7 linked regions of the Homo sapiens genome follow. The protein of the gene in region 1 purifies or fractionates together with the protein of each later gene. This does not show direct contact. Each region holds a gene or a part of one and is shown in the gene's direction. Other genes may lie near its edges. The genes, in order: DIPK1A, CNNM1, RAB6B, TCTN2, NPC1, ABCA2 and FIRRM.

The links.
Region 2: the proteins of DIPK1A (region 1) and CNNM1 purify together in Homo sapiens (affinity purification with mass spectrometry; one large-scale study listed by BioGRID and IntAct). This does not show direct contact.
Region 3: the proteins of DIPK1A (region 1) and RAB6B purify together in Homo sapiens (affinity purification with mass spectrometry; one large-scale study listed by BioGRID and IntAct). This does not show direct contact.
Region 4: the proteins of DIPK1A (region 1) and TCTN2 purify together in Homo sapiens (affinity purification with mass spectrometry; one large-scale study listed by BioGRID and IntAct). This does not show direct contact.
Region 5: the proteins of DIPK1A (region 1) and NPC1 purify together in Homo sapiens (co-immunoprecipitation; one large-scale study listed by IntAct). This does not show direct contact.
Region 6: the proteins of DIPK1A (region 1) and ABCA2 purify together in Homo sapiens (affinity purification with mass spectrometry; one large-scale study listed by BioGRID and IntAct). This does not show direct contact.
Region 7: the proteins of DIPK1A (region 1) and FIRRM purify together in Homo sapiens (co-immunoprecipitation; one large-scale study listed by IntAct). This does not show direct contact.

Annotation. Positions count from the first base shown.
Region 1 is NC_000001.11:92,846,463-92,849,962, reverse strand, and holds part of DIPK1A (divergent protein kinase domain 1A), read left to right. Parts: intron 1-2,603; coding exon 2,604-2,780; intron 2,781-3,500.
Region 2 is NC_000010.11:99,335,856-99,339,355, forward strand, and holds part of CNNM1 (metal transporter CNNM1), read left to right. Parts: intron 1-3,500. UniProt on the Homo sapiens protein: Probable metal transporter.
Region 3 is NC_000003.12:133,833,383-133,836,882, reverse strand, and holds part of RAB6B (ras-related protein Rab-6B), read left to right. Parts: intron 1-2,241; coding exon 2,242-2,308; intron 2,309-3,500. UniProt on the Homo sapiens protein: The small GTPases Rab are key regulators of intracellular membrane trafficking, from the formation of transport vesicles to their fusion with membranes. Rabs cycle between active GTP-bound and inactive GDP-bound states.
Region 4 is NC_000012.12:123,691,613-123,695,112, forward strand, and holds part of TCTN2 (tectonic-2 isoform 1 precursor), read left to right. Parts: intron 1-1,045; coding exon 1,046-1,111; intron 1,112-3,229; coding exon 3,230-3,364; intron 3,365-3,500.
Region 5 is NC_000018.10:23,534,507-23,538,006, reverse strand, and holds part of NPC1 (NPC intracellular cholesterol transporter 1 precursor), read left to right. Parts: intron 1-1,130; coding exon 1,131-1,334; intron 1,335-2,306; coding exon 2,307-2,538; intron 2,539-3,447; coding exon 3,448-3,500. UniProt on the Homo sapiens protein: Intracellular cholesterol transporter which acts in concert with NPC2 and plays an important role in the egress of cholesterol from the endosomal/lysosomal compartment.
Region 6 is NC_000009.12:137,021,738-137,025,237, reverse strand, and holds part of ABCA2 (ATP-binding cassette sub-family A member 2), read left to right. Parts: intron 1-1,001; coding exon 1,002-1,095; intron 1,096-1,397; coding exon 1,398-1,400; intron 1,401-2,185; coding exon 2,186-2,297; intron 2,298-2,372; coding exon 2,373-2,536; intron 2,537-2,759; coding exon 2,760-2,887; intron 2,888-3,236; coding exon 3,237-3,347; intron 3,348-3,500. UniProt on the Homo sapiens protein: Probable lipid transporter that modulates cholesterol sequestration in the late endosome/lysosome by regulating the intracellular sphingolipid metabolism, in turn participates in cholesterol homeostasis.
Region 7 is NC_000001.11:169,826,040-169,829,539, forward strand, and holds part of FIRRM (FIGNL1-interacting regulator of recombination and mitosis), read left to right. Parts: intron 1-53; exon of another isoform or gene 54-176; intron 177-1,011; coding exon 1,012-1,160; intron 1,161-1,671; coding exon 1,672-1,801; intron 1,802-3,223; coding exon 3,224-3,410; intron 3,411-3,500. UniProt on the Homo sapiens protein: Regulates PLK1 kinase activity at kinetochores and promotes faithful chromosome segregation in prometaphase by bridging kinase and phosphatase activities.

The DNA of each region.
Region 1 (3,500 bases):
ATACAAACAGCCGGGCCCGTGGCACGGGCCTGTAATCCCAGCACTTCAGGAGGCCAAGGTGGGTGGATTGCTTTAGTCCAGGAGTTTGAGGCCTACCTGAGCAACATAGCAAAACCCTGTCTCTACAAAAAATACAAAAATTAGCTGGGTGGCCAGGCACAGTGGCATACACCTGTAATCCCAGCACTTTGGGAGGCTGAGGCGGTAGGTCACTTGAGGCCAGGCATTCAAGACCAACCTGAGCAACATTGCGATACCCCCTCTCTACTAAAAACACAAAAAATTAGCCGGGTGTGGTGGCACATGCCTGTAATCCCAGCAACTCCAGAGGCTGAGGCACAAGAATCGCTTGAACCTGGGAGGCGGAGGTTCCAGTGAGCCAAGATCTCACATCACTGCACTCCAGCCTGGACAATAGAGCGAGACTGTCTCAAAAAATATATATGTATTAGCTGGGTGTGGTGGCACACACCTATGGTCCCAGCTACTCGGGAGGCTGAGGTGGGACAATCACTTGAGCCCAGGAGGTCAGGGCTGCAGTGAGCCGTGTTCATGTCACTGCACTCCAGCCTGGGTGACAGAGTGACACCCTGTCTCAAAAAAAAAAAAAAAAACAAAAAAAAACCAGACAAGATTGCTTCCCTTACAGACCTTACATGATTCCAGAGGGACAGGAGGTACAAACAGTTGATAAATAAATAAATAAACAAACAAAATAATTGTAGAATATGGTGTGTTCTGTAGGAGACACAGAGGGCAAATTGATAGAGAATGCAGTGTAAGGGATGGTGAGAAGTGCTTTAGAGGATGTGATCAGAGAAGACCTTTCTGAAATAATATTTGAACTTATACCTTAATAAAAAATTCATAGGCATGGGAAAAGGACAGGATGAACTAAATCACAAAAGAACTGCAAACAGCTGATGAACATAATGAAAAAAAATTCTACCTTACTTTTCATCAGAGAAATAAGAATAAAACAGTAGAATATCTAATTGGGGTAGAAGAAAATACAACGAAACATCTGGAGCAGTGGAAAATTGCATTTTAATGTTCATCTTATGGTTCCTAAATTTTCCTATATAAATATGCATTATTATTATAGAAATTTAAACTAATTTTTCAGTTGACAGTATTAATCATGTTAAAGACAATTTCTAAAACAAAGTCCAACATTTGAGTGTCTCCTGCATGCCAGGCACTGTTTGAGGCACTGAGGGAGACAGATAAAGCCTCTGGCCTCATGTTCTAATGTGAGATGAGACAGATAGTAATGAACTGATAAATAAATAAATATGATAATTTTAGACAGTGCAAAAGGCTATGAGGATAATGAAACAGGGTTAGAGGTGACCTGGGGGTGGAAGAGGATCTCTTCTAGACAGGGGGTCAGGGAAGGCTTTCTAAATGCAATGTCTAATCTGAGACTTGAATGATGTAAAGGAGCCAGCCATGTGAAGATCTGGGAGAGTACATTCCAGGCAGAGCCAGCAGCAAGTGAAGCAGGTCAGGAAGCAGAAACAAGCTTCAACCTGTCACAGAAAGACCAGTGTAGCTGGGACTTTGAGAAACGGAGTACGTGGTACAAGATCAGGTTGGAGACATAGGCGAGGCTAGCTCAAATGGAGCCCAACCGGTCATGGAAAGGACTTTGGACTTTAATTGAAAGGGGAATTTATTAGAGGGTTTGGAGCAAGGCAGTGAAATAATGTTTTCTTTGGATTAATATTAAGAATGAATATGATCTTATTTATTTTTTTATGTAGAAGAGGGGCAACCTATCCTAGTGGTAAAGACCTCAGCTCTTTTCAGCATGTTACTTCACCTGTATCTGCTTCAGTTTCCCCATCAGTGAAATAAGTATAATGATAGTACCTACCACCTAAGATTGGTACAAGGATTAAAATAATAACATAAATCAGTAAAAGCCAGGTGTGGTGCCTCATACCTACAATCCCAGCAACTTGAGAGGCTGAGGCAGGTGGGTCACTTAAGGCTAGCAGTTCAGGACCAGCCTGAGCAATACAGCAAGACCCCATCTCTACAAAAAATGTTTTTAATTAGCCAGGTTTAGTGGTACATGCCTATAGTCCTGGCTACTTGGGAGACTGAGGCAGGAAGATTCCTTGAGCTCAGGACTTTGAGGCTGCAATGAGCTATGATTATGCCACTGAACCCCAGCCTGGGTGACAAAGCAAGACCCTGTCTCTAAAATAAATTAGTAGACCATAGGACATAGTTAACACTATATAATATTAGTTTGATAAATAACTAGATACTTAAATAGTAGTTAATTCTGGGGAAGTGGGATTATGGAAGTAGAATGTCTGGGAACTTTGCTTTTGCCTTACATCCTTCTCATTGGACTTTTTGAAAAATATATTTAGGCATGCATTACTCTTATAATTTAAAAAATTAGTTTAAGGAAAAAATCTTGAGTGTGATTTCAAGTTTGCAGTTCAGAAATAAAGTCACACCTTAACCTCAATGTTTGATGCTTGTTTTGTTTTGTTCAGAGGAGGAGGACCCTAAAAATATAGTAGTATATTTTTTAGAGTTTTCTACTCAGTATAATACATAACTTGCCACTCTTTTTTACATAGATGTATTTAGGGATTTGGGATAATCTACCAGGTGTTGTGAAATGTCAAATGGAACAAGCGCTTCATCTTGATTTTGGAACTGAATTGGAACCAAGAAAAGAAATAGTGCTATTTGATAAGCCAACTAGAGGAACTACTGTACAAAAATTTAAAGAAATGGTCTATAGTCTCTTTAAGGTAAGCATACCCATTCATATGTTGCTAGTGTGAAGTGGGACTCTTTAGAGGAATTGGCAGGACCTCATCCTAAGCCATTAAAGTGTTGATATTCTTTGACCTCTATCAGATTCTCCATCCTGAGGAAATAATTATAAGAGGCCGGGCGTGGTGGCTCACGCCTGTTATCCCAGCACTTTGGGAGGCCAAGGCAGGAGGATCACTTGAGCCCAGGAGTTCAAGTCCAGCCTGGGCAACATAGTAAGACCTCAGCTATATATATATATATATACACGTATATATATATATACGTGTGTGTGTATATATATATATATATATACACACATATATATATACACACATATATATATATATATATATATATATATATATATATATATATATATATATGCCAGGAGTGGTGGCATGTGCCTGTAGTCCTAACTACTTGAGATGCTGAGGTGCGAGGATTGCTTGAGCCTGGGAGGTCGAGGTTGCAGTGAGCCAAGATCTCACCACTGCACTCCAGCCTGGACGACAAAGTGAGACCCTGTTTCAAAAAAAAAAAGAAAAAGAAAAGAAATCTGTGTTGGAGAATGTTTACTTTAACATTATTTATGATAGCTAAAAATGTCCAGATATGAGGAGGGAGTTCATTAATTAATTGGAGTGCTGTACAGTTTGACATGAAAATTAATTCAAAAAAGGTGAAATAAAATGAGTATACTCTTAGAATTGTGG
Region 2 (3,500 bases), on another chromosome or scaffold:
CCATGGCCTTTCCTCAGTGCCTGTCCACAGACAGCAAGAGGCTCTGGTCCTCTCTTCTTAGAAAGACATCAATCCTGTTGGATTAGGGCCCACCCTTATGCCATCATTTAATCTTAACTACTATACTTCCTTAGAGGCCTCTCTGGGTGTCGTTAGGGCTTCAACATATGAATTTTGTGGGAAGACAAACATTCAGTCCATAACAATCACCAAAGCTGGCCAAATAATTGGATGCCAATATTGCATCCAACTGCAGTCATGTCATTTTGGTCAATGATGGACTGCATGTATGATGGTGATCCCATAAGATTACATTGGAGCTGGAAAATTCCTGTCACCTAGTGATGTCCTAGCAGTCATAACACCTAACATCGTCCTAAGGCAACACATTACCTTTACTATGTTTAGATACGCAAATACTTACCATTGTGTTACAATTACCTACAGTATTTGGCACAGTAACATGCTCTACAGGTTTGTAGCCTAGGAGCAATAGATTATAACATATAGCCTATGTGTGTAGTACACTATATCCTCTAGGTTTTGTGTGACTACATTCTATGATGTTCACACAATCATGAAATTGCCTAGCAATGAATTTCTCAGAGAGTGTCTCCATAGTTAAGCAGTGCATGACGATTTCTTAAATCTGTACATAATTTAATCCACTATTTGTTCCACTTAGGTTATTCACTGATTTTATTCAACAAATAGTTGTGTTGGCACAGTGGAGAACATCATCAACATAGTCCTTGTCTCTATAGAGCTTCACTCTAATACAGGAAACAGAAATTAAACGAACAGGATAGTGATTAAGAACATAAGATTTGGCCAGGCGTGGTAGCTCACTCCTGTAATCCGAGCACTTTGGGAGGCCGAGACAGGTGGATCATTTGAGGTCAGGAGTTAGAGACCAGCCTGGCCAACACAGTGAAACCCCGTCTCTACTAAAAATACAAAAATTAGCCGGGCAGTAATGGTGCACACCTGTAATTCCAGTTACTCAGGAGGCTGAGGCAGGGAGGTTGCAGTAAGCCAAGATCATGCCACTGAACTCCAGTGGCAACAGAATGAGACCCTGTCTCAAAAAAAGAACATAAGACTTACTAGAATGCCTGGGTTGATACTGGCCCTGGGCAAATTACTTAACTGTTTATGTCTGTTTCATTAGCTGTAAAATGAAAATAATACTAATATTTACTCATAAGATTGTGTGAAATATTAAGACTATCGCATTATGCTTACTTACTACCTGTCATGTAAGTACTAAGTAGATGTTAGCTATGATTATTAAATATAAACACAAGTCTATTACTCATTTATGCAAATGCCTCCTAAGAAGTTACACTTTTTCACATTTTTGTCTCCCTCAAATTCGTTCTCTCTAGTGCCACTAAAATAATCTCCAGTAATGTCACTGCTTAAAACCCTTCAGCAGCTCCCCGCTGCCTACGGGAGAGAGGCTAAGCTGGTAAGGCAGCCAGCAATGCACTCATGACCTGCTTCTTGCCCTCCCCTCCAGCCTCATCGCTCACCACTCCCTGCCACAGCTTTACCCTCCAGCAATGCTGAACTCTGTGGTGCACTGTGCTATTCTTGCCTTTGTCCCTTTATTCACATTGCACTTCTGTCAGGAATATGCTTTGCCTGACTAATTCATTGCCAGCTCTTTGACACTCAGCTCAGGGGCCTCCTCCTCTGGGAGACTTCTCCTGTAAACCCCAAAATACAAAAATAGATTTTTTGGCCAGCTTCATTGTTTTATGTGCATATCTCAATCATTGAACTAACAAGCTGTACTACCAGTGTTTGTTTATAAGTGCCTCCCACCCATATAATGAGCATCTCCAGGGCAAAACTGTCTTATCTGTCTTTGTAGCTCCAGCAGCTAACGATGCATATGACACATAGTAAATTTTCAATGAATGTTTGTTTAAGGACTGAATGGATGACTTAAGGAGTTAAACTTTAATATAATGGAAGAGATCTGCAGAGCACTAGAAAATGAATTAAATCATTTTGGACTATGCAGCAGAACAAATCAAACTTATAAGTTTGTTAGTGTTAGAAGAAAAGTGTTGCATCTATTGTTTCTCAGCTTCTTTAGGTACATCTATTAATATTTATTACAACAATTTCTTTTCACATGTAAAGCACTGTGCTAAGAGTTAGGGGTATGAGATAAAATCTCTGTTCCCAAAGAGCCTAAAGCATAGTGGATGAATAGCACTTCCCTTTGCAAAGCTAGAAGGCAAGCTGGACACTCACCTTTCCCATGACTTCCAGTGACCTTGAATTTACAAGTCATGTCTCAGTATATAAGTACAGGATATGGGTAAGACAGACCTTGGTACATAAAGCATTAAAATGAAAGTGCTATACTAGAAATGCAAAAATGCAATGGGAACATGGAGGATACAATAACTATGACTAGGTGGCATTTTTTTTTTTTTTTTTTGAGATGGAGTCTCACTTTGTCGCCCAGGCTGGAGTGCAGTGGTGTGATCTCGCCTCCCAGGTTCAAGCGATTCTCCTGCCTCAGCCTCCCAAGTAGCTGGGACTACAGGCATGTGCCACCATGCCCGGCTAAATTTTTGTATTTTAGTAGAGACGAGGTTTCACCGTGTTGCCCGGGGTGGTCTCGAACTCCTGAGCTCAGGCAATCCGCCAACCTCGGCCTCCCAAAGTGCTAGGATTACAGGTGTGAGCCATTGCACCCAGTCATATTTTGCTTTTATAAATTTTTTACTGAAGTTTATGTTTCTATAATTTATACAGAAAAAAATTTAAATATAGAATAGTAGAAAAAAGAAGTATGAAAATCATATGAGGATAATCATCCCACTATCCTGAAATAGTAACTCAATATTTTGTCATATTAAAAATATATTGCACATAATAACAATCTTAATGAAATTCTTAAAAAGAAAACAAAAGGAAAAGCCCATTGTCCTGCCATCAAGCACAAATCAAATGTCCCATTCTAATCTTAAGAGTGATTTTCTTATAGGGTGGTATTTTTGCTATAGTTTCCTCAGGGTTGAGTGCTATAATTTGGGAAGACTAATTTTAAAAATGGAGCCGTAGAGATTTATCATACTTCTTAAATTTACTACTCTATTATTGGATTGCTTTTAGGAGACACTGAGTTCTGTATAGACAACAGGGGAAAGGAATAAAGCTTTGTTCTGAAGTCAAAGCTTCTGAGTAATACAGCACTGACTGACATTTAACTCAATTAAACAATTCAGCTTTGCTGGGCTAGTAACACCATCTTTGCAAACAAAAAAGCACAACCCACGTATGCTAGGCTGCTCCACCTGTACACTAGCATGGCTGTAACACAGCCTACTGCACAATCCATACTCAGTCTTTGCTTATTCATTGATTCATTCAGTAAACATTTTTTGAATTCCTGCTTTGGGCCAGGCATTACACTAGACTCTGGGAATACAGTGGTGAGCTAGGCAGACATTATGGAGCTAAAAATATCCTCTTCC
Region 3 (3,500 bases), on another chromosome or scaffold:
GGTGGAAGGGACACTATGTGACACTGGGGGCCCCAAAGCTCCAGGACTCAGTGCCCCACCCTAACTAGAGTGTCCTCATCAGGGCTTCACTCACTCCCATCTGTTCCCAGCCTCCCTTGGTGTGGGGCTGAAGCTGTCATGGTCCTTCCTGCTCCCTGGGGGCATGCAGGAGAGACTGGGCTGCTACTCTTTGGGAGCCCTAAAGTCATGGGAAGCAGGGAAGCAGAGGGAGGGCAGGGCAGCACCAGGAGGTCCATAGGGCAGGTAGCATCTGCCTCAGCCGTCAGGGTCAGGGAGGCACTGATGCCCCTACCCCCAGAGTGCTCTGGAACCCATGCAGTGGTTTAGCAGGAGTTAAATGTGGTCAGTTTCGAACCCTGTGTGGCTCAGAGGAGTGTCCATGCAGTGCAGACTCCTGGATCTAAATGTGAGCATATCCACTCACAGAAACCCATACCTGACCCTAGAAACCCATACCTGATCCTAGAGCACCCTTCAAAATCCCTAGTGGCATTTTGGCCACTAGTAGAGGCTGTGACTGTTTTGAGAGCCAGACAGGCAGATCAGAGCCGCCCAGGGCCAATGCCATGAAGGAAAGCTCAGGAAGGATGGCCTGGGCCCTTTTACCCTTGCCTACTAATGGCTACCCCACTGCAGAGCCTCCTCTGCAGCCCGCCCACAAGGGTCTCACACCATGCTGGGCCCACCAGCAGCTTCCCCCCTTGGGCCCTCATGGCCTTTAGCCCTGTCACCCAGCCCGGGTGCTCAGCTGGGGCTGGGCTCTGGGGTGAGGCCATGAATAAGACTCACCCTGTCTTCAGAGAGCTCATGCAGTGGAGGGTATGAGCCCAGAGCCCACCCAGTTCCTGCAATTCACATTTGTGAGGACAGCGGGAGTGCTCCTGGGTTAGTCCTTTCAGGCTACCGTAACAAATCACTATAGGCAGGGTAGCATATAAACAGCAGAAATGTATTGCTTACAGCTCTGGAGGCTGGGAACTCCATGGTCAAGGTGCAGGCATATTCAGTGTCTGGTGAGGGCCCATTTCCTCCTAGATGGCACCTTCCTGCTGCATCCTCACAAGGTGGAAGGGGCAGACAGGCTCCCTCGGGCCTCATTCATAAGGGCACTCATCCCGTTCATGAGGACTCTACCCTCCTGACTAAGCACCTCCTAAAGCCCCACCTCTTTATACTGTCACATTGGAGATTCTGTTTCAACATAGGAATTTGCAGGGGGACCGGCATTCAGAACCTAGCAGTTCAGAGTCTTCTGTGCCTCATACTTCTGCCTCGTACCTGTCACCTCCAAGATTCCATCTCTGCCAGCACCCCATCTGCCACTTGCCACCTGTCCCCTGCCACCCACACCTGCCCAAACACACACACACACACACACACACACACACAGAAAACCCACATGTACGCAGACACACACCTTACCAAGGACACACACTATGCACACATTCCCCCCACACTTACACAAACACACACATAAAGATGCCACACGTTCACACACACCACACTCAAACATTCCCCCATATGCTTACACAAACATACATGCACCTACCCACACGCACCACTCACAACACACACATTTTCCACGCAGTCCTACAGATAAAACACATACACTGTACACACACTCCTACACACAATAAACAACTCACACTCCTACACATCCAAACAAGCCCACAAAATTGTGTTCACACTCCTGCATCCCTCGCGCTCTCAGAGAAGCCTCACCACTGTGCCCATGCAGCCCTGGCCCTGCTGTTCGCTGCCTTGGCGCCGGACCTGCAGGGCTCCCCAAGCAGAGTCATTCATCTCAAGGGCAAGTCACTTCCCCATGCCTGGTCCCCATGAGGGCTGTTTGCAGAAGCCCACCTTAAGGCCTGTCACCCAGAGGCCCAAACCATTTTCTGCACCAGAGGAAGTCCCTTGCAGTCACTGCCATGACCTAAGCTCATCCCAGTGACCCTATGGCCAGTCTGCTTGGGTGAGAGGCCACAGCTTTGTTCCTTCCTTCCACAAGCTACTGAGGCCTGCCCAGACCCAATGCTGTGAGAGGTGGGGGAGAGAGAACATAGGCACAGCCCCTGCCTTTGAGGGCACCGTCCGCTGGGCAGATGGGAGAGTAAAGCTGCAGGTTGGGAGGGGAAGAGGGGTGAGGGTGCAGGTGCAGTGAGGAGCAGAGGGGAGGGCCAGGGTTGGGGTTCACACTGCATTTCTTCATCTTTCCAGCTTTTTCGACGTGTGGCGTCGGCTCTACCCGGAATGGAGAATGTCCAGGAGAAAAGCAAAGAAGGGAGTATCCTTTTCCTTTGACAAGTGAGTGAAAAGATGTATAGAAGCCATTTATTCACTGAATATGTTAGTGCAGTGGACAGACACTCGCCCAGTCCCCGCCCAGCCTTCCCTGGTCTGCCGCGAATGGCACGGGGCCTCCTCTAGGCGGGATGCAGCTGAACCCTATGGTTTGGAGCCCCCGTCTGGCTCTAACCATCTACTTCTTCTTCCAGAATAGCAGGAAGATACCAAAGGGGTGTGCACAGAGTGATGCTGTGGGGTGGGGAGTGAGAAACAGCGACTTTGCCCTTCTTTACAGCGAGCATGTTTATGGGTTTCATGAACACAGGCAGAGTCTCCACTGCAGGGAAGTCTCTGTCACTGGGGATATGATCTCAACGTGGTTCAGTCTACTCAAGACAGCTCCCCCCTTCAGACAGATGCCCCCTCCTTGTCCCGCCCACCTTCTCTACCCAGCCCTGAACAGCTCCTGAGGCTCCCCACTGATCTGTGGGACCATTGCGCATCACCCACAAACCAGCCCCAACCTGAAGAGACACCTAGATGCTGAAACTGAGGTTCAGAGAGGTAGTCTGGTTTGCCCAGTGTCACACAGCATGTAAGTTACAGTTAGGATTCACACTCAGGCTTGCTTCCTCCATATCCAGCCCTATTCCATGTGGGACACTGTCCCTCTAAGGGCATTTGAGAGAATCAGATGAAAACTGTTTCAGCAGGGGAAGCCATTGCCCACACCTGGGCCTCCCCTGCATCTAGTCAGATGTCCCTGCCTGAGTAAGCCACCAGAAAACAAGCATGCAGATCCCTGGCTGGCATCCTTTACAGTGGACCTGTCCCTACACAGCAGCTCTCCAACATCCCCCACTGATCCTATAGGCCTCTGAGGGTAGACATCCCTGACAGATCAAAGAAGGGCCCTGGGAAGATGGAAGGGCACCTTTGGGCTGATGAGAATCAAAAGCAAAAGAAGCACACAGCTTAATGTTGGAGGCCTCATGGAGCTGCTGGGGCAGGGCGGGCAGGACACCAGGAGTCCCAGGGCTGCAGCAAGGGGGAGCCTGACACAGGCCTGGAGGGAAGCTAGGCCTCTCCAGCCTTGCTCAAGGAGCTCTCAGAGCAGACTCGAGACCCACCCCCCGGGGGGGTCAGGAAGGCTCACCAAGGAGCAGGTGCCCCAGCAGTCCCACGGTCTG
Region 4 (3,500 bases), on another chromosome or scaffold:
TGTCCAAGTTTTTGCGTAGATGTGTGTTTTTATTTCTTTTGGGTAGACACCTAGGAGTGGAACTGACAGGTCATGCTAATATGACTTCTTGAGGACCCACCAAATTGTTTTTTTTTTGTTTTTTTGGTTTTTTTTTTGAGAGGGAGTCTTGCTCTGTCACCCAGGCTGGAGTGCAGTGACGTGATCTCGGCTCGCTGCAACCTCCACCTCCCTGGTTCAAGCGATTCCCCTGCCTCAGCCTCCCAAGTAGCTGAGATTACAGGCATGTGCCACCACACCTGGCTAATTTTTTTTTTTTTGAGACCAAGTCTTGCTCTTGTCCGCCAGGCTGGAGTGCGATGGCGCGATCTCGGCTCACGGCAACCTCCACCTCCTGGGTTCAAGCGATTCTCCTGCCTCAGCCTCCCGAGTAGCTGGGATTACAGGCACCCACCACCACGCCCTGCTAATTTTTGTATTTTTAGTAGAGACGAAGTTTAGTAGAGATGGGATTTCACCATGTTGGCCAGGCAGATCTCGAACTCCTGACCTCAGGTGATCCACCCACCTCGGCCTCCCAGAGTGCTGGGATTACGGGCATGAGCCACCACGCCCGGCTAATTTTTTTGTATTTTTAGTAGAGAGGAGGTTTCACCATGTTGGCCAGACTGGTCTCAAACTGACCTCAGGCAATCTGCCTGCCTCGGCCTCCCAAAGTGCTGGGATTATAGGCGTGAGCCCCTGCGCCTGGCCAATTGTTTTCTACAGTGTCTGCACCATTTTGTATTGCCACCAGCAGTGAACTGCATATTTGTTTTTATGTCACAGTGACCCTGGTTTTTGTTTGTTTGTGTGTTTGTTGTGGATTTTCTTCCTCCGTTATAATTAGATGCTAAGAGGATGGGGACTCCTATCTGATGGTTTTTGGGGAGTGGGGAGGGTTTTGTAGTCAGCACCCTGGGCAGTTGCGGTCACCATATTTGCTTTGTAAGCTATACTTTGAGTAAGTGTGATCATGGTAGGCCATGTGTACGCCTGTGGAAGTTAATTTATGTTATCTCTTTAGGCATAGTTACACCAAAAGTGATCTATGAGGAAGCAACTGACCTAGACAAATTCATCACCAATACAGGTATTTAATGTTACACTTTGACGTCATTTCTTCAGAAACAGATATGTCATTTCTTACAAGTAATATATACCCTCAGAGTGTATATTTTTGTTAGTCATTTAAAAAGGTTCACAATAGTTAGAAAGATCTGCCAGGAACATTTCATTTGTTCCTCGTTCTGTCCTGCTGGGCTTTAGAGTGCTCTCTGTGACCTTGAGCCTGCTCCTCCACAGTCCTGGATTCTCTGAGTTCCACCGACCCTTCTAGTTCCAGCTTCCGTGAACCTTTCCTTAAATGTTTGATAGTTAAATAATTCTTTTTTTTTTTTTTTTTTTTTTTTTGAGGCGGAGTTTTGTTCTTGTCACCCAGGCTGGAGTGCAATGGCATGATCTCGGCTCACTGCAACCTCCGCCTCCTGAGTTCAAGTGATTCTCCTGCCTCAGCCCCCTGAGTAGCTGGGATTATAGTCACCCGCCACCACACCCAGCTAATTTTGTATTTTTAGTAGAGACGGGGTTTCTCCCTGTTGGTCAGGCTGGTCTCGAACTCCCGACCTCAGGTGATCCACTTGCCTTGGCCTCCCAAAGTGCTGGGATTATAGGTGTGAGCCACCGCGCCCGACCAGTTAAAAGAACTTTTTAGGGCACAGCATTTTCACTTTTTGCTTTCTTTCCTTTTTTTTTTTTTTTTTTTTTGATAATTAAACTTTCCAATTGTGATGCAGCCAAATAAGTTACGTAGAGTTTGGCAGATTTTTTTTTTTTTTTTGAGATGGATTCTTGCTCTGTCACCCAGGCTGGAGTGCAGTGGTGTAATCTTGGCTCACTATAACCTCCACTTCCTGGGTTCAAGCAGTTCTCCTGCCTCAGTCTCCCAAGTAGCTGGGATTACAGGTGTTCACCACCATATGCCTGGCTAATTTTTGTATTTTAGTAGAGACGGGGTTTCACCATGTTGGCCAGGCTGGTTTCGAACTCCTGACCTCAGGTGATCCACCTGCCTTGGCCTCCCAAAGTGCAGGGGTTACAGGCGTGAGCCACGGCGACTGGCTCAGTTTGGCTAATTTTACCAGAACTTTAGTTTTTAATGAAGGATACTGTTTGTTTCTTTCTTTTCTTTTTTTTTTTTAATTGGAGACAGAGTCTTGCTCTGTCGCCCAGGCTGGAGTGCAATAGGGTGATCTCAGCTCACTGTACCCTCCACCTCCCAGGTTCAAGCAATTCTCATGCCTTAGCCTCCTGAGTAGCTGGGATTACAGGCACCTGCCACCAATCCCGGCTAATTTTTGTATTTTTTTGTATTTTTTTTTTTTTGAGACAGTCTCACTGTCACCCAGACTGGAGTGTAGTGACACAGTCTCCACTCACTGCAACCTCTGCCTCCTGGGTTCAAACGATTCTTCTGCCTCAGCCTCCCGAGTAGCTGGGATTACAGGTGCCTGCCCCCATGCCTGGCTGATTTTTTGTATTGTTAGTAGAGAGGGGGTTTCACTGTGTTGGCCAGGCTGGTCTTGAACTCCTGACCTCGTGATCTGCCTGCCTCAGCCTCCCAAAGTGCTGGGATTACAGGCGTGAGCCACCGCACCCGGCCTAATTTTTGTATTTTTAGTAGAGACAGGGTTTCGCCATGCTGGCCAGGCTGGTCTCGAACTCTTGACCTCAGGTGATCTGCCCACCTCGGCCTCCCCAAGTGCTGGGTGTCTCTTTCTGATGTGTTGTACTTCTCAAATTTATTCATTGGCTCATCAAATGTTAGTGGAGTTCCTACGCCGTAGTAGGGAACTAGATAGCGGGCCCCTGCCCTGGCGGAACTGACCCTCTGGTCTTTCATCTCACAAACATTTTACCAAGTGCATGCTCCATGGCAAGCTATGAGCCAGGTGCTGGAGATATAGAAATGAAAGGAACAGATCTCATTCTGGGTACTGTGATGGCATAGAGGAGGCAGCTAATGCTGACTTGGTGGGACCAGGGCAGGCTTCCTCAAGGAAGCAGTGACCGTGCCATGTTAGGGAGCTGGAGATAGGGAGGGCAGGGGCAGGGCACTTGGGGAAGGCCACGCAAGCAGAGAGAACCTCCCAGTAACAGAGTCAGGCTCAAAGAGGGTCTTTAATTTATGAACATATTCTTGTATTTGCAGAAACTCCTTTAAATAACGGATCAACCCCTAGAATTGTGAATGTGGAAGAACATTATATTTTCAAATGGAATAATAATACCATCAGTGAAATAAATGTTAAAATTTTTAGGGCAGAGATTAATGCCCACCAGAAAGGTAACTTTGATGAGGGTAGCAAGCATGCTTTCACTGAAAAGTATTTTTTTTTCCTCTTTTCAAGATTCTCATAATTATAACCCATAAAACTAAGTTGGACTTGTTTCTTATGTGCATTTATGATTTAATTAACGAG
Region 5 (3,500 bases), on another chromosome or scaffold:
TGATGATGACCGGAAGTCTCTGGCCTTGATTTGGAAGCTTTGGGAGGTGGAAGATGAGTATCCCCATGTATGTTAGGTAAACCCTGAACTTAGGTTTTTCATAAGAACATACATCTGACCAGAGTCATATCAGTGAATCATTTATATCATGCATGTGCTTTGAGACCTATTCGAGGTATCATGGGATGACTCCTCCTAAAAGTTAAGTAGAAATGAATCTTGCAGCTTGATTTACTCACTGACTGGATGCTTTGGCCTACGTAAAATAAGTTGAAGTAGATTCAGTTTTTCTGAAGGCAGTAGCCACCGTTCCTGGGGAGCCTCCAGGGTGCCAGCGTCATGCCAGGCACTCCCTGACATTATTCCATTTCTCATCACGCAGCCTATGAGTAGGTGGTGGTATACCCATTTACAGAAGAGGAGACTGGGGCTCAGAGGTGGTCATTTTGCTCGGGGTTACATGACCAGTAAGTGGCAGGGCTGAGGTTGTTCCCAGGGCCCTTGCCCTTTCCTGCTTCCTATTACACAACAGGACTGAGTAAACCCTGTACCTTTGATTATACATGAAACCAGGTGGAGAAACAGCAGCTATGTACCAAAGAACCCAGAGCAATCGAGAAAAGCCCATCTGGCCAGGCGAAGTGGCTCACACCTGTAATCCCAGTACTTTTGGAGGCCGAGGTGGGCGGATCACCTGAGATCACCTCAGGAGTTCAAGACTAGCCAGGCCAACATGGCAAAACCCTGTCTCTACTAAAAAAATACAAAAGTTAGTTGAGCGTGGTGGCAGGTGCCTGTAATCCCAGCTATTCGGGAGGCTGAGGCAGGGAGAATTGCTTGAACCCGGGAGGTGGAGGTTGCAGTGAGCCGAGATCACGCCACTGCACTCCAGCCTGGGCTACAGAGCAAGACTCTGTCTCAAAATAAAAAAAAAAAGAAGCCAGTCTGGGAGAGAACAAGCTAAACCTTTGGTGTTCCCTTATCTGGGGGCCTTCTTCATCCCTGAAATGTACAGCTGGGTCTGACCTCTGAGTCCAGGGTCAGGTGATTTTGCTTAGCCTCAAGTGCTCAGATTCTGCTGATATTTTGCAAGACCTGGACTCTCTTGACACCCAGGATTCTTTCCTCAGGGGACATGCTGCCTATAGTTCTGCAGTTAACATCCTCCTTGGCCATGGCACCAGGGTCGGAGCCACGTACTTCATGACCTACCACACCGTGCTGCAGACCTCTGCTGACTTTATTGACGCTCTGAAGAAAGCCCGACTTATAGCCAGTAATGTCACCGAAACCATGGGCATTAACGGCAGTGCCTACCGAGTATTTCCTTACAGGTAAAGCCTGCCCTTTTTCAATGGGGTTTACCCAGCAAAGGGCCTACACTGGGTGGGAGTGGGGAGGGTTCCCTTGGCAAGATGCTGATTTTCAGGTTGGGTTCTGGCCCCTGCTCCATTCTGAGCACAGGGCAGTATATCAAAGGAAATGGGTGCTGGGCAAAGGAGTTCAGAATCTAAAGTCTCTGTGAAGGCCTGAGGGCTAGAGACGCAAAACTTGATCTCTGCGCCACTGCACAGCTGCAAGAGACACACACTGGAAAATGGCTTAAGGCAGGGGGCGCTTGGAGAGCAGGCGGCTCAGAGCAGGGCCCGGCCCACATTCTTGGCCAACAATGAACCAGAATCCCTAACTGCTGGTTATTTGGGATGCTGCCTGTATGTAGACTTTTTATATTGTTAGGGGTTTTTTTTCCCAGGAAGAAAAGTATTATGTATGAACTACTGAATTTAGAAACTGTAGAAAGGTAGGAGAAACAAGTGATTTATTTTTCCTGCCTCCCCATGATCTCGCTTAAAGCAGGAAGGCCTGGATTTGTTTGGAAGAAGTTAAGAGCCGGTTAGCTCTGGCAGAAAATAAATGAAAGCATGTTTTCCTCAGGCCTTGCACGGACCCCGCTGAGCCTGAGGTAGTGTCTCAGGATAGATCAGGATTCTTTGTTTTTTTGTGTTTTTTCAGAATGCTGTGGAATGCTCTCTGTAAATGTCTATAAAATAGCATAGATTGGGCTTATAAACAGAAACTTTATCAAAAATATACATTTTGCATCACTGCTGGGCCCTTCTCTGGGTGGTCAGTGGCCATGAGAGGTCAAGTGAGTTGCTTTCGGTGAGTCTTGTAGACAGCCAGCAAGGTTTTCTGCAAGGGATGTTTCCCAAAGGAGTCTGACCACTTGGCAGTGGTGACAGGATGAACACGCAGTGTTCGGGAGTGAGAGCGAGCTTTAATGAGGCCTCCCCTCTCCCCTCCAGTGTGTTTTATGTCTTCTACGAACAGTACCTGACCATCATTGACGACACTATCTTCAACCTCGGTGTGTCCCTGGGCGCGATATTTCTGGTGACCATGGTCCTCCTGGGCTGTGAGCTCTGGTCTGCAGTCATCATGTGTGCCACCATCGCCATGGTCTTGGTCAACATGTTTGGAGTTATGTGGCTCTGGGGCATCAGTCTGAACGCTGTATCCTTGGTCAACCTGGTGATGGTGAGTCCTCATACAGTCTCAGTTTGTCCCTAGCTCCTGTTTCACTTGGGGGAATTGGCTGTCTTAGATTCCATGTAAACCCTAAAGATGGAGTAAGATACCAAGTCTGGCGCTTGCTCTTGGCACACATGGAGAGGCAGGATGAGTGCTGGAGGAGTGCTGGATGGTGGTGGGACAGGGCATAGAGGGAGCGAGCATTGAGTTGGACATCTGGGAGCATAGGCACATTACAGGCAATTTCTGTTCAATTTTTTCTCTTGTCCCATTCCTTGCGGCTATACTAGTATACCTGATGGTGCCTCTGACCATGGAAATGTGATTTCCTGGCCTAGTTCTGGGCTAGTCTGCCTGTAATTTGTTATTCTTTAGAGATTGCACAAGCCTGTAGCCTGATGACAGCAGGATGTTCACTTTTTACTTAGAAAATTGCACCCCGCCCCAGGAGCTCTCCGACCAGTGCCTTTTGCCTCCTATGTGGTTATCAGGTACTTTTAATCATTAAAGATGAGAGCACTTGAGAAGGTATTCATGGAAAATAGAACAGTGTATCCGTACTCTCAGATATGAGCCCTGCTTCAGATAGGGGAGCACTGAGGTCCAAGAAAAGAAGTTGTGACAATGCGCCAGCTCGGTGCGGGTGGGGTGACCTTAACGGGTTCCAGCAATTTCTCCTGGTCAACACAAACGTGCCACAGAAAACCAGGCTTTTGGCTGTGTGTAGAGAGGGCCCCAAAAAGTTCCTGGTACAGTAAGATTGGTGTGATGGAGGCCTTGTAAGTCCAATGGGATGCTTGGCCTCCTCTAGCACCCAGGGTGCCCTGGGTAATTAGCACCCATCCTCAGAACGGGGTGGCTGCCTAGGGTCTTCAACAGGAAGAGAGCCATCCTAAAGGAAGTGCTTTATTTCAGAGCTGTGGCATCTCCGTGGAGTTCTGCAGCCACATAACCAGAGCGTTCACGGT
Region 6 (3,500 bases), on another chromosome or scaffold:
GAAGTGAGCAAAGCACCTCTTTCTCACTCCACGCAGGTCCCACTAGGGCTCACCTTGGTGCCCAGCCTGGGTTAGCAGGAGCCGACCTGGGGAAACTGAGCTCCAAGGCCCAAGACTGGCTGCCCCGGGTCAGGAGAGGGGACAGGGCAGAAAGAGGTGCCTTTGGGCCAGGTGTGGTGGCTCACGCCCAGGTGGGCGGATCACGAGGTCAGGAGATCGACACCATCCTGGCTAACACGGTGAAACCCCGTCTCTACTAAAAATACAAAAAATTAGCTGGGCATGGTGGCGGGCGCCTGTAGTCCCAGCTACTCGAGAGGCTGAGGCAAGAGAATGGTGTGAACTTGGGGGACGGAGCTTGCAGTGAGCTGAGATCGCACCACTGTGCTCCAGCCTGGGTGACAGAGTGAGACTCCGTCTCAAAAAAAAAAAAAAAAAAAGGTGCCTTTGCTTCAGGGACTGGGGCTGTTAGACCCCTTACCAGGTCTTCTCCGAGGCTCAGGGCCCTGGGCGCAGGCCAAGCCTCTCAACCAGGCCTCCTCATCTCCCCAGGCCCCGGTATTGGTGGGGAGGAAGTGGGAGGAAGGTGAACCCGGGGCAGTGTGGGAAGTGTAGGCGGGGCTAGTGGCTCAGATGGTCCCCAAGATTTTGCCCAGGTAGCCCTGGAGGTGGGGAGGGAGAAGATGAGCTGGGATATACATGGGTCAGAGTAGACCACAAGCTGGCCGATTTGTCCCTGTAGGCCCTGAGGCTCCTCAGAGGGCACGTAGGCCCAGTGTGGGCTGGGGACGGGAAACCTGATTTGCTGAGCCAGACAATCCTTACCCTCAGTGCCCTGGAAGGGGCTCAGACCTTCAGTGGTTCCGAAGGGCCTGTGCCCACCTTCCCTGGCCCCAGGGAGCACGTGGTCCTGTCTGGGCTGGGCCAGCCCTATGGGAGGCTGGGGAGGGCCTAGGCGAGCACAGGTCTGTCCTATCCCTCACTGGGCCCACCCTTTCCAGTGGGTCCTGGCCTTCGAGATCTTCATCCCCCTGGTGCTGTTCTTTATCCTGCTGGGGCTGCGACAGAAGAAGCCCACCATCTCCGTGAAGGAAGGTGAGTGCGGCAGGAGGCCCCAGGCACAGCCGGGGGAGCGCGGCACCTCGCACGCCTGCGCTGTGTGTGCACATCTGCACACGGGTGTCCTGCTCCCGGAGTCCCTGAGGTGCGGTGCCTGCTCCCCTGTGTGGTCCTGGGCCGTGCCTCCTGGCTGGGCTGTGGAGGTCGGGGCTGGCCTGTGGCCGCGAATGATGATGCCAACGCCTCTTCCTGGTGATGTGGGCACTCACTGGTCTCCTCTGTTCTGTTTTGATCCCCCTCCCTCCCCGCATGGTCTCTTGTCCTCGGCTGGCATGCAGTCTGTAAGTGAGCGGCCACCTCCTCCTGGCTGGCCTGGGCAGCAGCTGCGGGGGGCCCATGGGCCGTCCTGGCTTGAGCGCCCTCCCCGCTTGCATTAACAGCCCTCCCGGGCCCCCTGCCGGCCTCAGGAACAGCTGGCTCCAGATGGGGGGTGGCAGGCAGTGAAGTGGGAGGTGGTAGGGAGTGAAAGGCCCGGCCACCTAAAGGCACAGCTGGTGCCTGGGTCAAGCTGAGGCGGCATCTCTCTGCCTGGCCTTGCCTTCTAGGGCTGGGGTGCCTCGGCTTCTGGGCTGAGTCTGGGCTGAGGCTGGGCTGGCCTGGGCTGGGGCTGGAGCGGCCTGGCTACTCTCCCTTCATACTCCTTCAGGCTCTTGCACTCACTCTGCTAACCAGCTGGCCAGAGGTCAGAGGTCACTGCCCAGAGGGGGTCCTTTGTCCTCCCCTGGGCTCTGTAGGCAGTGCCACACCTGAAACGTTTTCGGGGGGAGAGTGCCAGGGCATGTGGGCCTGCACTGGCTGAAAGGAAAGGAATGCTCTGGGAGTTATGGCAGAAGGGGTGGTGAGTGGCTCTTTGACCTCTGACCTGCTGGAGTCATTCGCCCCAGAACGCTTGGCCTGTAGCCCAGCTGGGGCCAGGGCTCTGTGCCGCCTTCTCCCTAACGCTGCTTCTCCTTCCTGACTTTCTCTAAATTTCTCCTCTCGGCCTCTGTCTCCCTCCCCTTCTGGATTCCTCTCTCTCTCTCTCCCCTTTCACCCCCGACCCTGCCCTCTCCCGTGGGTCTGCCAGCCTTCTACACAGCGGCGCCCCTGACGTCTGCCGGCATCCTGCCTGTCATGCAATCGCTGTGCCCGGACGGCCAGCGAGACGAGTTCGGCTTCCTGCAGTACGCCAACTCCACGTGAGTGCCCACCCGCCCCTCGGAGCACCCACCCCTCCCCAGCCCATCCAGTGAGTGACATCCGCCATGGTGCAGGGTCACGCAGCTGCTTGAGCGCCTGGACCGCGTGGTGGAGGAAGGCAACCTGTTTGACCCAGCGCGGCCCAGCCTGGGCTCAGAGCTCGAGGCCCTACGCCAGCATCTGGAGGCCCTCAGTGCGGGCCCGGGCACCTCGGGGAGCCACCTGGACAGATCCACAGGTGTGCCCTGTGCAGGGAAGTTGGGGGGCAGGGCTGCGGGCAAAGCTCTGCTGTCACTGGGCTGAAGCCCACATCCACTCTGGGCCCCTCCACCTGCACTGAGTTCCCAGCCACGCACAGGCTGCAGTGGCAGAGCTGTGGTGTTGGGCTCGGCTCCGAGCGCATGTGGGGGCACCTTGCCAAGGTGCAGCGGCCTCTCAGCCTCGCCTTCCTGCCTGTCCAGTGTCTTCCTTCTCTCTGGACTCGGTGGCCAGAAACCCGCAGGAGCTCTGGCGTTTCCTGACGCAAAACTTGTCGCTGCCCAATAGCACGGCCCAAGCACTCTTGGCCGCCCGTGTGGACCCGCCCGAGGTAAGGCAGGGACAGCTCCCAGCCCTGGCCACTCCCTTCTGCCCCAGCCACGCCCCCTGGTTGCTGAGCCATCCTCAGGATGCTCAGCCTGAGTCACGCCCAGACCGTCTGAACCTTGCCCCCACCATCTGAGCCACGCCCCCACTCTCTGAGCCATGCCCCCACCATCTGAGCCACGCCCCCACACCTACATCGGAGCCACGCCCCCACCATCTGAGCCACGCCCCCACTCTCTGAGCCACGCCCCCACCATCTAAGCCACGCCCCCACACGTCCATCGGAGCCACGCCCCCACCATCTGAGCCACGCCCCCCACACCCCATCTGAGCCATTCCCCCACACCTCCTAGGTCTACCACCTGCTCTTTGGTCCCTCATCTGCCCTGGATTCACAGTCTGGCCTCCACAAGGGTCAGGAGCCCTGGAGCCGCCTAGGGGGCAATCCCCTGTTCCGGATGGAGGTGAGGGCATCCATGTGTGGGATGGGCCTGGAGTGCTGCCTGCCTCTGGGGGTGCTTCTGCTCCGTGGGTGAGGAAAGGGCCCCTTTGGTGACTTGGAGCTCCTCCTGGGAGAGGGGGAGGGTCCCAGGGGTCTATGGCAGGCATGAGGGGTA
Region 7 (3,500 bases), about 77 Mb from region 1:
AGTAAATTCAGCATTCTGCCTATTTTAAAACAACTTTTTTTTTCTTTTTTGAGATGGAGTTTCGCTCTTGCTGTCTAGGCTGGAGTGCAATGGCGAAATCTCGGCTCACTGCAACCTCCACCTCCCAGGTTCAAGCAATTCTCCTGACTCCGCCTCCCAAGTAGCTGGGATTACAGGCATGTGCCACCATGCTTGGCTAATTTTGTATTTTTAGTAGAGACGAGGTTTCTCCATGTTTGTCAGGCTGGTCTTGAACTCCCAACCTCGCTTGCCTCGGCCTCCCAAAGTGCTGGGATTACAGGCGTGAGCCACCACACCCGGCATTTTTTTTTTTTTTTTCTGAGATAGAGTTTCACTCTGCCGCCCAGGCTGGAGTGCAGTGGCGCAGTCTTGGCTCACAGCAACCTCTGCCTTCTGGTTTCAAGTGATTCTCCTGCCTCAGCCTCCCGAGTAGCTGGGATTACAGGCATGCACCACCACAACCAGCTAATTTTTGTATTTTTAGTAGAGACGGGGTTTCACCATGTTGGCAAGGCTGGTCTTGAACTCCTGACCTCAGGTGATCCACCCGCCTCAACCTCCCAAAGTGCTGGGATTACAGGCATGAGCCACCACGCTCCGCCCAAAAACAACTTTTAATAGAAATAAGCTAGAATTTATCAGACATAGTCTTTTCAATATATATTTTTACTTTTGATTTAAGATTTAGATTTTTATAGTATTTTTAAGGATATTGTGAAAATGATATCAGTGCCTCAAAGCAACAAAGATTTCTCTAAGATTATCAACTTCTCATTTTATAGAATTATGGCTATGTTTAGTTTAGAGATCTTGATCCAATTCTGGTATCAATTCAGTACTTTGAATTTTGTTTTATAAAATGCACACTTATTTTTAAAAACTTAGTTTTTAATATATTTTTACTACCAGAACATCAGTTTATAGTACTTACTCTACCTAAAATTAGAAGATAGCTATTAATGAATGAGTTTTTTTTCTCTCCCTTCCCAGCAAGTTTCCTCCAAGCCTTTATGCTACCAGGATTTCTAAAGCACACCAAGAGGAAATAGCAGGTGCTTTCCTAGTGACACTGGATCCACTTATCAGTCAGCTGCTCACATTTCAGCCTTTCATGCAGGTGGTTTTGGACAGTAAATTAGGTAAGCTTCAAAATAGATTTAATGATAAATCATCTATTATGACATGTTAGAGACACTGATTTCCCCTAGCCATTCTTTTTTACAATTAAGAAATTTTTATTAAGTTTCTTTTACTTTCTTTTCTTGAAACATATTTCTTATTTAAAAATTATACCTGGCTGGGCACAGTGAATCACACCTGTAATCCCAGCACTTTGGGAGGCCGAGGTGGGCAGATCACCTGAGGTCAGGAGTTCAAGACCAGCCTGACCAATATGGTGAAACGCCATCTCTACTAAAAATACAAAAATTAGCTGGGTGTGGTGGCATGTACCTATAGTCCCAGCTACTCGGGAGGCTGAGACAGGAGAATCGCTTGAACCCAGACGGTGGAGGTTGCAGTGAGCTGAGATTACACCACTGCACTCCAGGCTGGGTGACAGAGTGAGACTCTGACTCAAACAAAAAAAAATTATTCCTTTACGTATTAATCAGATTTCTGCTGAATTAATGTGTTTTTATTACATGTAAGACCTGCCATGTGAACTGCAGTTTCCACAATGTCTTCTTCTGGTTGTTGTCATGGATAAGCTGCCATCTCAGCCTAAGGAAGTGCAAACCCTGTGGTGCACAGACAGCCAGGTCTCAGAAACGACAACCAGGTAGCAAACATGTTTTTATCCAGTCATATTACCAATGGTTAAGAAGGCCCTGTTGTTTGGAATGGTCTTGAAATTAAGTTTGTGTGTTTTTTTTTTAAATCAGATATTTATGTTAATAGTTATTGTGTAGACACACATATATATTGCTACTTTATAAAAGCAGATAAATATAAAATATATAAACCTATATTAGATGCTAAAAATATTTTAATATTTAATTTTGTTCAGTATTGCTTAATGGTCAGCATTATAAACATTGATTGTAATAGAGTAGCTATAAGTAGAAACATTTAAAAACGAGCTCTGATAAATAGAACACTAGACACTGTAAGGTATATCCTGGCAAATTTAACCTTTAATCATCTTCCTTGCCAACACCGTAGTCCAGGCTCTAGTTTCTTTCTTCCTGGATTACTCTGTGCTCTAATTTTTCACCTCTTCCTTTATCCCATTCTGCGTACCACGATGAGGTTAGTCTCCCTAAACCTGGCTCTGAGCTTCCTATTCTGCTCAAAAACTGAAACATAATGTTAGAACTTCTCAGCTTTGGATTTAAAGCCTGTCCCATACTATTGTCATCTTCTGCTTTTTCTCCTCATTCTTGTATTCATTTTCAACACATATTCCTTGCTTCTGTCACCCCCTTATTTGTGTGCTTTTACTCGTGCTTTTGTCTTCTTTACGTACTTACAATTTGAACAGTTTTGTTTTGTTTTTTTTTTGTTTGGAGCAGGGTCTTGCTCTGTCACCCAGGCTGGAGTGCAGTGGCATGACCATGGGTCACTGCAGCCTCAACTTCCTGGGCTCAAGTGATTCTCCTACCTTAGCCTCCTAAATAACTGGGACTAATGGTGTGTGCCAGCTGTCCTGGCTAATTTTTAAATTTTTTCTAGGGATAAGGTCTCACTATGTTGCCCAGGTCTTCCAACTCCTGGGCTCAAGTGATCTTCCCGCCTCGGCCTCCCAAAATGCTGGGATTACAGGCGTGAGCCACTACACCCTGCCCATAACTTGACTATTTTTAATTTGTTGTTTAAATCCTCTAAGTTTCTTCAACCATTTTAATCTTAAAATGACTCCTCGTCTGCTACTTATTTTCTGTTTTTCCATATAATATCTAATTTAGCTATTTAAGTTTCAAGTTCCTTGAGGAACTTTGACTTTGTGTAACTCAGTACCAAGATAAACAGTTGGTAAATGATGCAAAAAATGTCCAGGAAAATTCTCCTTTAAGGAATTTCTTTGACAGTGAATATATTTTCCTTTTATGTGTACATATTCACACGTGTTGGAAACTATTGCTGATTATACCTCTTGAAACATTTTCTGCTTAAACAACCTTCCATGTTACATATTATTATTATAATTGCTAATTAGTAAATGTTATTAATGTTGGGTTCAATGTTCTCAATTTCCCTGCAGGATATCTCTACTCAAAGCCGTTTTCTACAGTTTTGAGCAGTGTTCTGGTGAACTCTCTCTACCTGTTCATTTACAGGGATTAAAGAGTAAGGGGAAAGCTGAGGTGGCTGTCACCTTGTATCAGCATGTTTGTGTTCATCTGTGTACATTTATTACTTCCTTTCATCCCTCACTGTTTGCTGAACTGGTAAGCATATTACTTACTGTGCTAAGCTAAGGTTACACTTTTGCTTTCTCTTCATTGAAATTGTGATTCATATACAGAAGAAAATGTGGG